Linked DNA regions of Homo sapiens: region 1 is linked to region 2. The links come from fine-mapping of genetic effects on plasma protein levels. A gene starts in region 2. The other region holds a variant in brackets. All regions are shown on one strand. Distances are from middle to middle. Region 1 overlaps HORMAD1 (HORMA domain containing 1). Region 2 holds the start of CTSS (cathepsin S).

Region 1 (5,389 bases), 50 kb after region 2:
AGAATCGCTTGAACTCAGAAGGGGGAGGTTGCAGTGAGTCGAGATCACACCACTGCACTCCAGCCTGGGTAACAGTGAGACTCCGTCTCAAAAAGAAAGAAAATGAATGTTTGTAACCGAGACACAAATATGCATTTGCTATATTTGTATAGGATTTTGCATTACACTTAACCTCTGTTATACCTACTCAGTGACCAAAGAGAAAAATCAATGTAATCTATCCATGTGTTATGCATTTACAGACAGTTAATCTGCAAGGGGATTCTTAAGATTTTTAGGTACTTTTTGAGCTGAGGCTGAGGTGAGAGGATTGCTTGAGCGCAAGAGTTTGAGGTCAGCCTGGGTAACATAGTGAGATCTCATCTCTACAAAAAAAAAAAAAAAAAAAATTAGCCAGGCATGGTGGTGCAACGCCTGTAGTCTCAGCTACTTTAGAGGTTGTGCGAGGATATATGAAATGTCTAGAATAGGCAAATTTATAGGGACAGATAGGCTAATGGGTAGGACGTGGGATGGGATAAGGGACAGGGAGTGATTGCTAATTGGTATGGGTTTCCTTTTTGGGATGAAGAAAATGTTATGAAATTGGTGGTGATTGTTGCACACACACCTCTGTGAATAAACTAAAAACCATTAAACTGAAAAACACTTTATATGGGTGTCCCAAAAAGGTGTTTTTAAAATACCAGCCACTATTAACATTTGTTTTATTCATCCTCAAAATACAAGCATTTGATATATTTGAATATAATCTGAAGAATTATATAATGATTATATACTTTTTTTTTGAGATGGAGTCTCGCTTTGTCACTCAGGCTGGAGTGCAGTGGTGCGATCTTGGCTCACAGCAACCTCTGCCTCCTGGGCTCAAGCAATTCCCTGCCTCAGCCTCCCAAGTGCTGGGATTACAAGAGTAGCTGGGTTTACAGGTGCCTGCCACCACGCCCAGCTAATTTTTGTATTTTTAGTAGAGACAGGGTTTCACCATTTGGCCAGGCTGGTCTTGAACTCCTGACCTTGTGATCCACCCGCCTCAGCCTCCCAAAGTGCTGGGATTACAGGCGTGAGCCACTGCACCCGGCCTATACTTTTTTAATGAAATACTTTGTGCCCATCAACTTGCATCCAATGGAGGTTGTAGGCAGCTGTGATTGTGCCACTGCACTCCAGCCTGGGCAATACAGTGAGATCCTGTCTCAATTTTTTTAAAAATAAAAAAAAAAAATTAAAAGATTTTTAGATACTTTTTGCATATGTCCTTTAGGCTATTACCCTAGAAATACCCTCACATTTTACATGCCGCTCTGACTTTTGGGGGATTACTAACCAATATAGGGAGGAATTCTTGGGGTGAGTACTATGATTATACAAAATTGGATATATGTTAAGTCAAGAGAAACTTTATTTTTAATAAATTTAAATAAAGTGTTCTACTTTCCCTTGAATTTTAGAGTGCACTGGTATTTCCCAATAAGATATCAACTGAACACCAGTCTTTGGTGTTAGTGAAGAGGCTTCTAGCAGTTTCAGTATCCTGTATCACGTATTTGAGGGGAATATTCCCAGAATGCGCTTATGGAACAAGATATCTAGATGGTAATACAATATTTATTTTAAAGCTTTCTTTTAAAATGGTATTTTTATTTTTGCTTGCTCCAAAACTATAATTTTTGACTTAGAAATTTTATTTTAATAGAAGCTTTATTAATACAATTCACGTACCTGACAGTTCACTTGTTTAAAGTGTACATTTCAATGATTTTTTTTTTTTTTTTTTTTGAGACGGGGTCTCGCCCGGGCTGGAGTGCAGTGGTGCCATCTCCGCTCACTGCAAGCTCCACCTCCTGGGTTCACGCCATTCTCCTGCTTCAGCCTCACGAGTAGCTGGGACTACAGGCGCCCGCCACCACGCCCGGCTAATTTTTTGTATTTTTAGTAGAGACGGGGTTTCACCGTGTTAGCCAGGATGGTCTCGATTTCCTCACCTTGTGATCTGCCCGCCTCGGCCTCCCAAAGTGGTGTGATTACAGGCGTGAGCCACCGCGCCCGGCCCATTTCAATGATTTTTAATAAATTAACAGATTTGTACAACCATCACCACAGTCAATTTTAGAACATTTCTTCATCCCAAGAAGAAACTCCATACCCCTTAAGGCACTGTGCACTTCCCCTCAACCTTCCCAGTCCTAGGCAATCACCAATCTACTTTCTGTCTGTACAGATTTACTTACTCTGGACATTTCATATAAATGAAATAATATAAAATGTGGTCCTGGCCGGGTGCAGTGGCTCACGCCTGTAATCCCAGCACTTTGGGAGGCCGAGGCGGGCGGATCACAAAGTCAAGAGATGGAGACCATCCTGGCCAACATGGTGAAACCCCGTCTCTACTAAAAATACAAAAATTAGCCGGGCATGGTGGTGCATGCCTGTAGTCCCAGCTACTTGGGAGGCTGAGCAGGAGAATCGCTTGAACCCGGGAGGCGGAGGTTGCAGTGAGCCGAGATTGTGCCACTGCACTCCAGCCTGGCAACAGAGCAAGACTCAGTCTCAAAAAAAAAAAAAAAAAAAAAAAAAAAAAAAGTGGTCCTTTGTGACTGGCTTTCACTTAGCATGTTTTCAAGGTTCCTCCGTATTGTAGCATGGATCAGTGCTTCATCCCTTTTTGTTGCTGAATAATGTTCTATTGCATGGCTGTACCACATTTTATTTATCCCTTTATTAGTTGATGAACATTTGGGTTCTCTTTTTGGCTATTATGAATAATGCCGCACTGATGTACAAGTTTTTGTTTTTGTTTGGATAACTAAATGGTTTTAAAATATATACATATATATATAT[ATT/T]CAATACCTTTAGAAGCACTTAATCATAAAATTTTTCCTCAGTTTCTCAAGTATAATTTTACCTGAAATTATGCTTATAATGATGAAAGAAATCAATAGAAAACATACAGTAGTAGTGTATGTTCTTGTGCTATTTTAAGGAAGTAAAAATAATACAGCCAGGGCCAGGCGTGGAAGCTCACGTCTGTAATCCCAGCACTTTGGGAGGCTGAGGCAGGAGGATCACTTGAGGCCAGGAATTCAAGACCAGCCTGGTCAACATAAGGAGACTCCATCTCTATTTTTTAAATTAAAATAATAATAATAATACAGCCAGTTTATACTACAATAATAACTTATTTCTCAGTACATTATACATGCATAATATTGTACACCAGTTATGTGCTGGGCAATATGTTAAGCACTATGTTATATACGATATCTTGTTAATTCATGTAGCAGTCTTACAAATACCTGTTTTTCAATTAAGGTACCTGAGGATATGAGAGACTCTCAGTCTTTTCCACTGTGTTACATGTTGCTTCTTTGCAGGCCTCTTTGTTTTTGATAGCCCGTTAAGTTCTTGGCCTTTACAAGTATTTTACTGGGATAAGATTCTAAGATTCTTGTATAACAATGGCATGAAAGCAACATATCTAATTTCATGGATTCTATAAGTTTTTTATGAAATATTTTTGTACCCATCAGCTTGCATCCTAATTATTATGATGGCATCTTATAATAAATATTAAAATACTACTTTCATATAACCTTTCTTCCTTTAATTACATTAATAATATTAATTATTGCTATTAATAATTTACCTGTGCTGGGCAAGGTGGCTCACGCCTGTAATCCCAGCACTTTGGGAGGTTGAGGCAGGCGGGTCACCTGAGGTCAGGAGTTCGAGACTAGTCTGCCCAACATGAGGAAACCCTGTCTCTACCAAAAAATACAAAAATTAGCCGGTCATGGTGGCGCACCTGAAGTCCCAGCTACTGGGGAGGCTGAGGTGGGAGAATGGCTTGAACTCGGAAGGCAGAAGTTCCAGTGAGCCGAGATCATGTCACCGCACTCCATCCTGGGTGATAGAGTGAGACCCTGTCTCAAAATAATAATAATTATAATAATAATTTACCTGTAATACACAGCAGAAGAAAATAAACTTCATTTAAAATTTCTAGTTGTTTACTTTTCTTAAGTAACTCTATATTTCATCATTTTTGTGTTTAGATCTTTGTGTCAAAATACTGAGAGAAGATAAAAATTGCCCAGGATCTACACAGTTAGTGAAATGGCAAGTAAAAGAATACCTAAAGAGAGAAAATTATTTTTTTCTCATTTTACTTTTTTTTGTACCTTGGATACCTTTGGTGTTTAACCAAATTTTAGTGAATCACCCTTTAATGCTAGATAGCATTTTTGTAGGTCATTAAATTTTCCACCGAAGTTTTCCTCTCCTTGAAGTCTGGGTATTTGGAAAAATAAATTTTAAAAATAAATGTTTCTTTATTTTGTGCCCCATGCAAGCAGGCTTTATTTATTTTATTATTGTTCCCCACAAATAGCTGTCAGATATTTTGTATTTTCCCTTCCATCTCTATCATCATTTTACATTTCTGCCACATTGTTTTTTATGTTTTGTCTTGTTTTAAGCTAGTTAATAAGAAGGGAGCTTTAATAAGACATTTTTGTATTATTTAGTAATGAGATAATATGGAAATTTATGAAAATAACTATTTTCTGGAAATGCATTCAGTCTAAAAATGAATCCTTGATTTTTTTTTTAGGATGCTAGGATGTTATGATGCTTTACAGAAAAAATATGTAAGTCTTGCAATCTCTTTATCCTTTTTTTTCTACAGTTTATGATCTACAAATATAACTGGAGTTATGATGTAGTAAAACATTCATTTGAACTAACTTGAGTGTAGGTCAGTCTGAATTACTGAAAAGCCTAAACATTTGAATATTTTAAAGACTAATCATCAACTCATTTAAAGATAATGGAATTAACACTAAACAAATTTTTCCAAGCTAGTTTTTTTAACACTTATTTGTATTAATAACACGTGTTAACTTACAAAAAAGTTAATGAATTAAAGAGTCTTTTCAAATAGTTTATTCATTAGTTTCACATGCCTTCTACAAGCTTGTTTATACTAATAATTTAATAAATTATTTCCTTATTAGGGTTCAAAAATAAATTTCCACATAATCTAGGTTAAATTGTCACAAATTCTGAATTAGCAAAATTAAGAAGGTTTTAAGATGTATTGTAATCCTTTTTGCATACTTAGTATAATTTAGTACCAACTTGCATAATGAAGTCCAGCACTAGGCTAATTGTGAAGAAGATGAAATTTTTTTTTTTTTGAGATGGAGTCTTGCTCTGTCGCTCAGGCTGGAATGCAGTGGCACCATCTCGGCTTACTGCAAGCTCCGCCTCCCAGGTTCACGCCATTCTCCTGCCTCAGCCTCAAGAAGATTAATTTTTATTCATGGTTCCTAATCTTCCCCATTAAGGCGTAGTAAATATTGAGCGCCCGTTATGTGTTAGGCATCTC
Region 2 (5,389 bases):
GCACATGCCTGTAATCCCAGCCACTTGGGAGGCTGAGGCAGGAGAATCGCTTGAACTCGGCAGGCAGAGATTGCAGTGAGCTGGGATCACACCACTGCACTCCAGCCTGGGCAAGTGAGTGAGACTCTGTCTCAGAAAAAAAAAAAAAAGAAAATTATTGTTCATTTATTTTAGATGTGATGATGGTATTGTGGTATTATATTTGTTTAATAGTCTCTGTCTTTTAAAGACACACACAGGGACATTTACGTATGAAATGACAGAATGTCTAGAATTTATTTAATATAATTCAGGTAGTGAGAGTGGGAATATAAATAAAATAAGATTGGCCATGTACTGATCATTGTTGAAACAAGACAATGGTTTCACGGCAGCTCATTTTACTACTATTTTTACTTTTACATGTGTTTTAAATTTTCCATAAGCAGTATCTTTTTAAAAAAAACTGTATGGCTACAAACACAAACATGTCTACTACAGCTGAGATGAATCAACATTATAATGATGTTACTTCTCCCTAAATTTATGCATATATTCAAATAAAAACTCTAATAGCCAGATGTGGGGGCTCATGCCTGTAATCCCAGCACTTCAGGAGGCCAAGGTGGGCAGATTGCTTGAGCCCAGGAGTTTGAGGCCAGCCTGGGCAACATGGTGAAACCCCTTATCTACAAAAAACAAAAAACAAAATCAGCCAGGCATGGTGGTGTGCACCTGTAGTCCCAGCCACTCCAGAGGCTGAGGCGGGAGGATCACTTGAGCCCAGGAGGTCAAGGCTGCAGTGAGCCATGATTGCATCACTGCACTCCAGCCTGGGTGACAGAATGAAACCCTGTCTCCAAAAGAAAAAAGCAAAAAACTCCAACAGAGTTTTTCAGGGAACTTGATAAACTGATTCAAAAAATTCATATAAAGAAGAGTTAACAAGTACAAAATACAAAGACAATGTTTAAAAAGAAGAACAAAGATAGGGTGGCCTAGATGACTTGCCTTACCATACGTGGAGACATATTACAAAGCTGTTTTAATTAAAACTGTGTGATACTGAAGTAGCAAAAGATAAAAAGAACAGCTTCATGAGCTCAGAAACTGACCTATCTATGTATGAGAATTTGGTGTACAATAGAGGTAGAATCAAAATTGGAAAACAAAGAAAATAAGCTCCCTACGTCATACCATACACAAAACTAAATTCCAGGTGAATTAAACACCTAAAAGCAGTAGCCATAGAAAAGATAAATAAAACACTCTCTGAAAGTATAAAAATAAGATGAGTGTATCTTTATTACATTTGGATGAGGAAAATTTTCTTATACAAAAACAGTATAGATTGATTATACGGAAAAGCTGAATAAAATGTTCTACCTCAACATAAAAAAATTTCATATAGAAAAACTCACTATAAACAAGACTAAAGGACAAGTGGAATTTCATAGGCTTATGCAAAGGAAGAAAAAATAAAATAAAAGACAAGTGGAAGACTAAGGGAGGATGTTTTTAAGGGTATATAACTGTCAAAGATTAGAAGCCAGAATATATTTTTAAAACACATACACCTTGGCCGGGCACGGTGGCTCACACCTGTAATCCCAGCACTTTGGGAGGCTGAGGCGGGTGGATCACGAGGTGAAGAGTTCAAGACCAGCCTGGCCAAGATGGTGAAACCCTGTCTCTACTAAAAATACAAAAATTAGCTGGACATGCTGGCAGGTGCCTGTAATCCCAGCTACTTGGGAGTCTGAGGCAGAGAATCGCTTGAACCTGGGAGGTGGATGTTGCAGTGAGCCAAGATCGCACCAATGCACTCCAGCATGGGAGACAAAGCACGACTCCGTCTCGGAAAACACACAACACACACACACACACACACCTCCCACAAATCACTAAGAAAATGCAACAATACAATAGAAAAATGAGCAAAAAAGATGAACAGGAAATTCACAGAAAATTCAAACGGTCAATAAATGTGTGAAAAGATCCTCAACCTCATTAGTAATTAGGAAAATGCAAATTTAAAAGATGATAGTTCGTCTTGCTCCCACCCCACCCAGGTAATCATTCTCAATTGGATATATTTGAGTGTATCCTTTTTTCCATGAATATACTAACACATACACACACACACACACACACACACGCATATTACTAAACTATACATATAGTATATATTAATAAAGACATTTTGAGTTTGATGAACGAAGGAATGGCTGAGTGAGAACCAGACAATATCAGATCATGAATGAGTTGTGTTAAAAGCAGTAAGACAGGTTTTCCTAGGAAATCATACAAGGAGCTGGGATTTGGGGAGCTTTATCTAAATCTCTTTATAACTAAATGTTTTCCATGTAAAAGTTGGTGTTTTTAAAATTCAATTTAATTTTTTTTTTGAGATAGGGTCTTGATATGTCATCCAGGCTGAAACACAGTGGCATAATCATGGCTCACTGCAGCCTTGTCCTCCTAGACTCAAGCAATTCTCCCACCTCACCCTCCCCCTCAGCTGGGACTACAAGCATGCACCACCATGCCCAGCTAATTAAAAAAAATTTTTTTGCAGAGACAGGGTCTCACTATATTGCCTAGGCTGGTCTTGAACTCCTGGCCTCAAGTGATCCTCCCGCCTCAGCCTCCCAAAGTGCTGGGATTATAGGCATGAGCCACTGGGCTCAGACAAGGGCTCTTCTTGATGGCTTACTGTATCCACTTTGTCCCCAAGACCATAGGGAAATGACTAGAGGTGACTGTACTAGCTAGATTTTAAATGAAACTGAAATGAAAGTTCACTTCCTCATTTTGAGTACCTCATGTGACAAGTTCCAATTTCTTTTCAAGTCAATTGAACTGAAATCTCCTTGTTGCTTTGAAATCTTAGAAGAGAGCCCACTAATTCAAGGACTCTTACTGTGGGAGCAACTGCTGGTTCTATCACGTATGTACTCTTTGTTCTTTTTCTCCCATTTGGTCTTCAAACACTCTGTGTTTGTAACTTGTTCTGCCTGCTAGGTTTTAAATCTTTGGTTTCAGGAAGTAAACTAAAAAATCGTGTCGTTCAATTTGCCTCTTCTCTATTTTTAAAAAGTTAATGTCTGCTTGAGCATCTAAGCATCTAAGTTGAGACTGAAACATGGCTTTCTTTGGAATATAATTTAAAGGCTTACATGTTTAAAATTCCAGATGTTTTCAATTAAAAAGAAATGGAAAAGAAAGTAGAATCCAGTTTGAGGGAGCTAGTCGCTGAATTTCTGTTGATGTCTCTTGAATTAAATACAGAAGTGGCATTTTAAAGAGTAGTTAATTGCCTCATTTGAAACAGATGTCTGATCATTAAAAAAAAAAAAACGTAAAAAGGAAAATTACCTACCTAAAGATGTGAAAGCAATAGATGAGAATTGTCTTTTAACTATCTGTAAAGACTGTGGATATTTAAACAGGTCAGTTAAGAAGAGCCCATGTATTCAAAAATTCAGGAGATAAACTGATTTTTCAGAGGTTTGTCTCTCTTAAGGATGATTTTTTTTTTTTTTTGAGAGAGAGAGAAAGAGATTTCCTTTGATTAGATTTGTTGGCAAATCCTGGAAAGTCCCTGTTTTCTAACCCTCTAGATGTGTTTGGTTTACCAGATATTGGGAAATTCCTGGAAATCACTTTTTAAAGTGCTACTAAGCATTGGAAGTAGTATTTCTGACATAAATCTGCAGCTGTTCCCTGTGACTATATATCCCAGGAATTTTCCTGTATAATTCTGTTTATAATAGTCTGTCCCTTTGATAGACTTTGCATTGTTATTTTCTCTTATGAAAACATGTGGTCACAACATATGCAGCTAATAGCAACACTTCCTATGTTACCTTTCCTTACACAGAATGAAACGGCTGGTTTGTGTGCTCTTGGTGTGCTCCTCTGCAGTGGCACAGTTGCATAAAGATCCTACCCTGGATCACCACTGGCATCTCTGGAAGAAAACCTATGGCAAACAATACAAGGAAAAGGTAGATTGGATTGCCACTCGAGCGATATGCTTTTAAAGGAGTACTGTTTTCTACCTCTTAAAATTGTGTTCTTACAGGCAGTGTTTTCAGTAAATATTTAAGCTGGGTGTGGTGGCTCGCGCCTGTAATCCTAGCCCTTTGGAAGGCCAAGGTGAGCGGATCACCTGAGGTCAGGAGTTCGAGACCAGCCTAGCCAACATGGCGAAACCCCATCTCTACTAAAAATACAAAAATTAGCTGGATGTGGTGGTGGGCGCCTGTAATCCCAGCTACTCGGGAGGCTGAGGCAAGAGAATCACTTGAGCCGGGAAGGCGGAGGTTGCAGTGAGCCAAGATTGTGCCATTGCATTCCAGCCTGGGTGACAGAGTGAGACTCCATCTCAAAAATAAATAAATAAATATTATGTACTTGTTTCTTGCCAGATACTGTTCTTGGTACCATACAGCAGGAATCAAAACAAAATTCCTGTTATGGAGCTTATATTATAGTGAGAGAGACAGGAAATAAGAAAATAAACAAGCAGATATGTAGTATGCTAGATGGTGATAAGTGTTGTAGATAAAAATAACAGAAGGCATGGAGAGTAGGAAGGGCCCTGGGTGGTGGTGGTGGTAAGAAGTCTATCTATATGACAGGAGGGTTAGGGAAGGCCTCACGGATAAGGGTGCCATTTGAGCAGAGAATTGATGGAAGCCAGGGAGCAAGCAAAATACATAATAGAGTGAAGGTCTCAGGCCAAGGGCAAATCAGCACAAGCTCCTGAGGAAGGGCCACATTTGGGATGGCTGAGGAGCGAAAAGGCGTTAATACCCACATAGTGTGGCCAGATATTGTTTCTTGACTATCACTTCCCATTTTGTACTTTTGTTTTTATTTCAAAGCACACTTGCTGATGTTAAGACCTTAACCCTACTGCTTTAAATAACTAAGTCCTGTAACTATGTAATATTTCTGTTTGTAAGCTAGCATCATATATTTATTTATTTGACATATTATTTTGTATAAAAATGACACTCTTAGGTCATACACTCTAAGTTTTATTTTTATTTATTTATAATTAAATAATAATTGTGTCTATTTATGGAGTACAATGTGATGTTATGATACAAATATACATTGCAGAATGATTAAATTAGGCTAATTAACCTATTCAGCACCTCACATACTTATCCTTTCATTGTGATAAGAACATTTAAAATCTACCCTTTCAGTAATTTTGACATATAAAATACATTATTATTATTATCTGTAGTCACCATGCTATGCAATAGATTGCTAGAATGTAGTCTTCTTGTCAAATGAAACTCTGTACTCTTTGCCTAACATCTCCCCTTTCCCTGTCTACCCTCCGCCCAGCCTCTGCTAACCACCATTCTACTCTCTACTTTTATGAGTTCAA

Evidence for each region. PIP is the posterior inclusion probability: the model's chance that the variant is causal. Protein levels are from antibody-based Olink assays in UK Biobank. Linkage for the fine-mapping came from a reference panel and not from the study's own genotypes, which makes the PIPs less certain.
Region 1: its variant is fine-mapped to the plasma level of the CTSS protein (UK Biobank, PIP 0.97).

What each region holds. Positions count from the first base shown.
Region 1 is chr1:150,713,345-150,718,733 of GRCh38, reverse strand. It overlaps HORMAD1 (HORMA domain containing 1), which reads left to right. Exons shown (of 15, transcript NM_032132.5): 3 at 1,452-1,596; 4 at 4,056-4,119; 5 at 4,613-4,649. Among named protein-coding and RNA genes, the nearest start is that of HORMAD1, 4.9 kb to the left of the region's middle. The variant ATT/T (reference allele first, on the strand shown) is at 2,842.
Region 2 is chr1:150,763,238-150,768,626 of GRCh38, reverse strand. It overlaps CTSS (cathepsin S), which reads left to right and starts at 2,849. Exons shown (of 8, transcript NM_004079.5): 1 at 2,849-2,929; 2 at 3,863-3,989. The coding sequence starts at 3,864. RefSeq lists cis regulatory regions at 2,903, 2,906 and enhancers at 2,831-2,975, 2,834-2,978, 3,909-3,958, 4,670-4,759.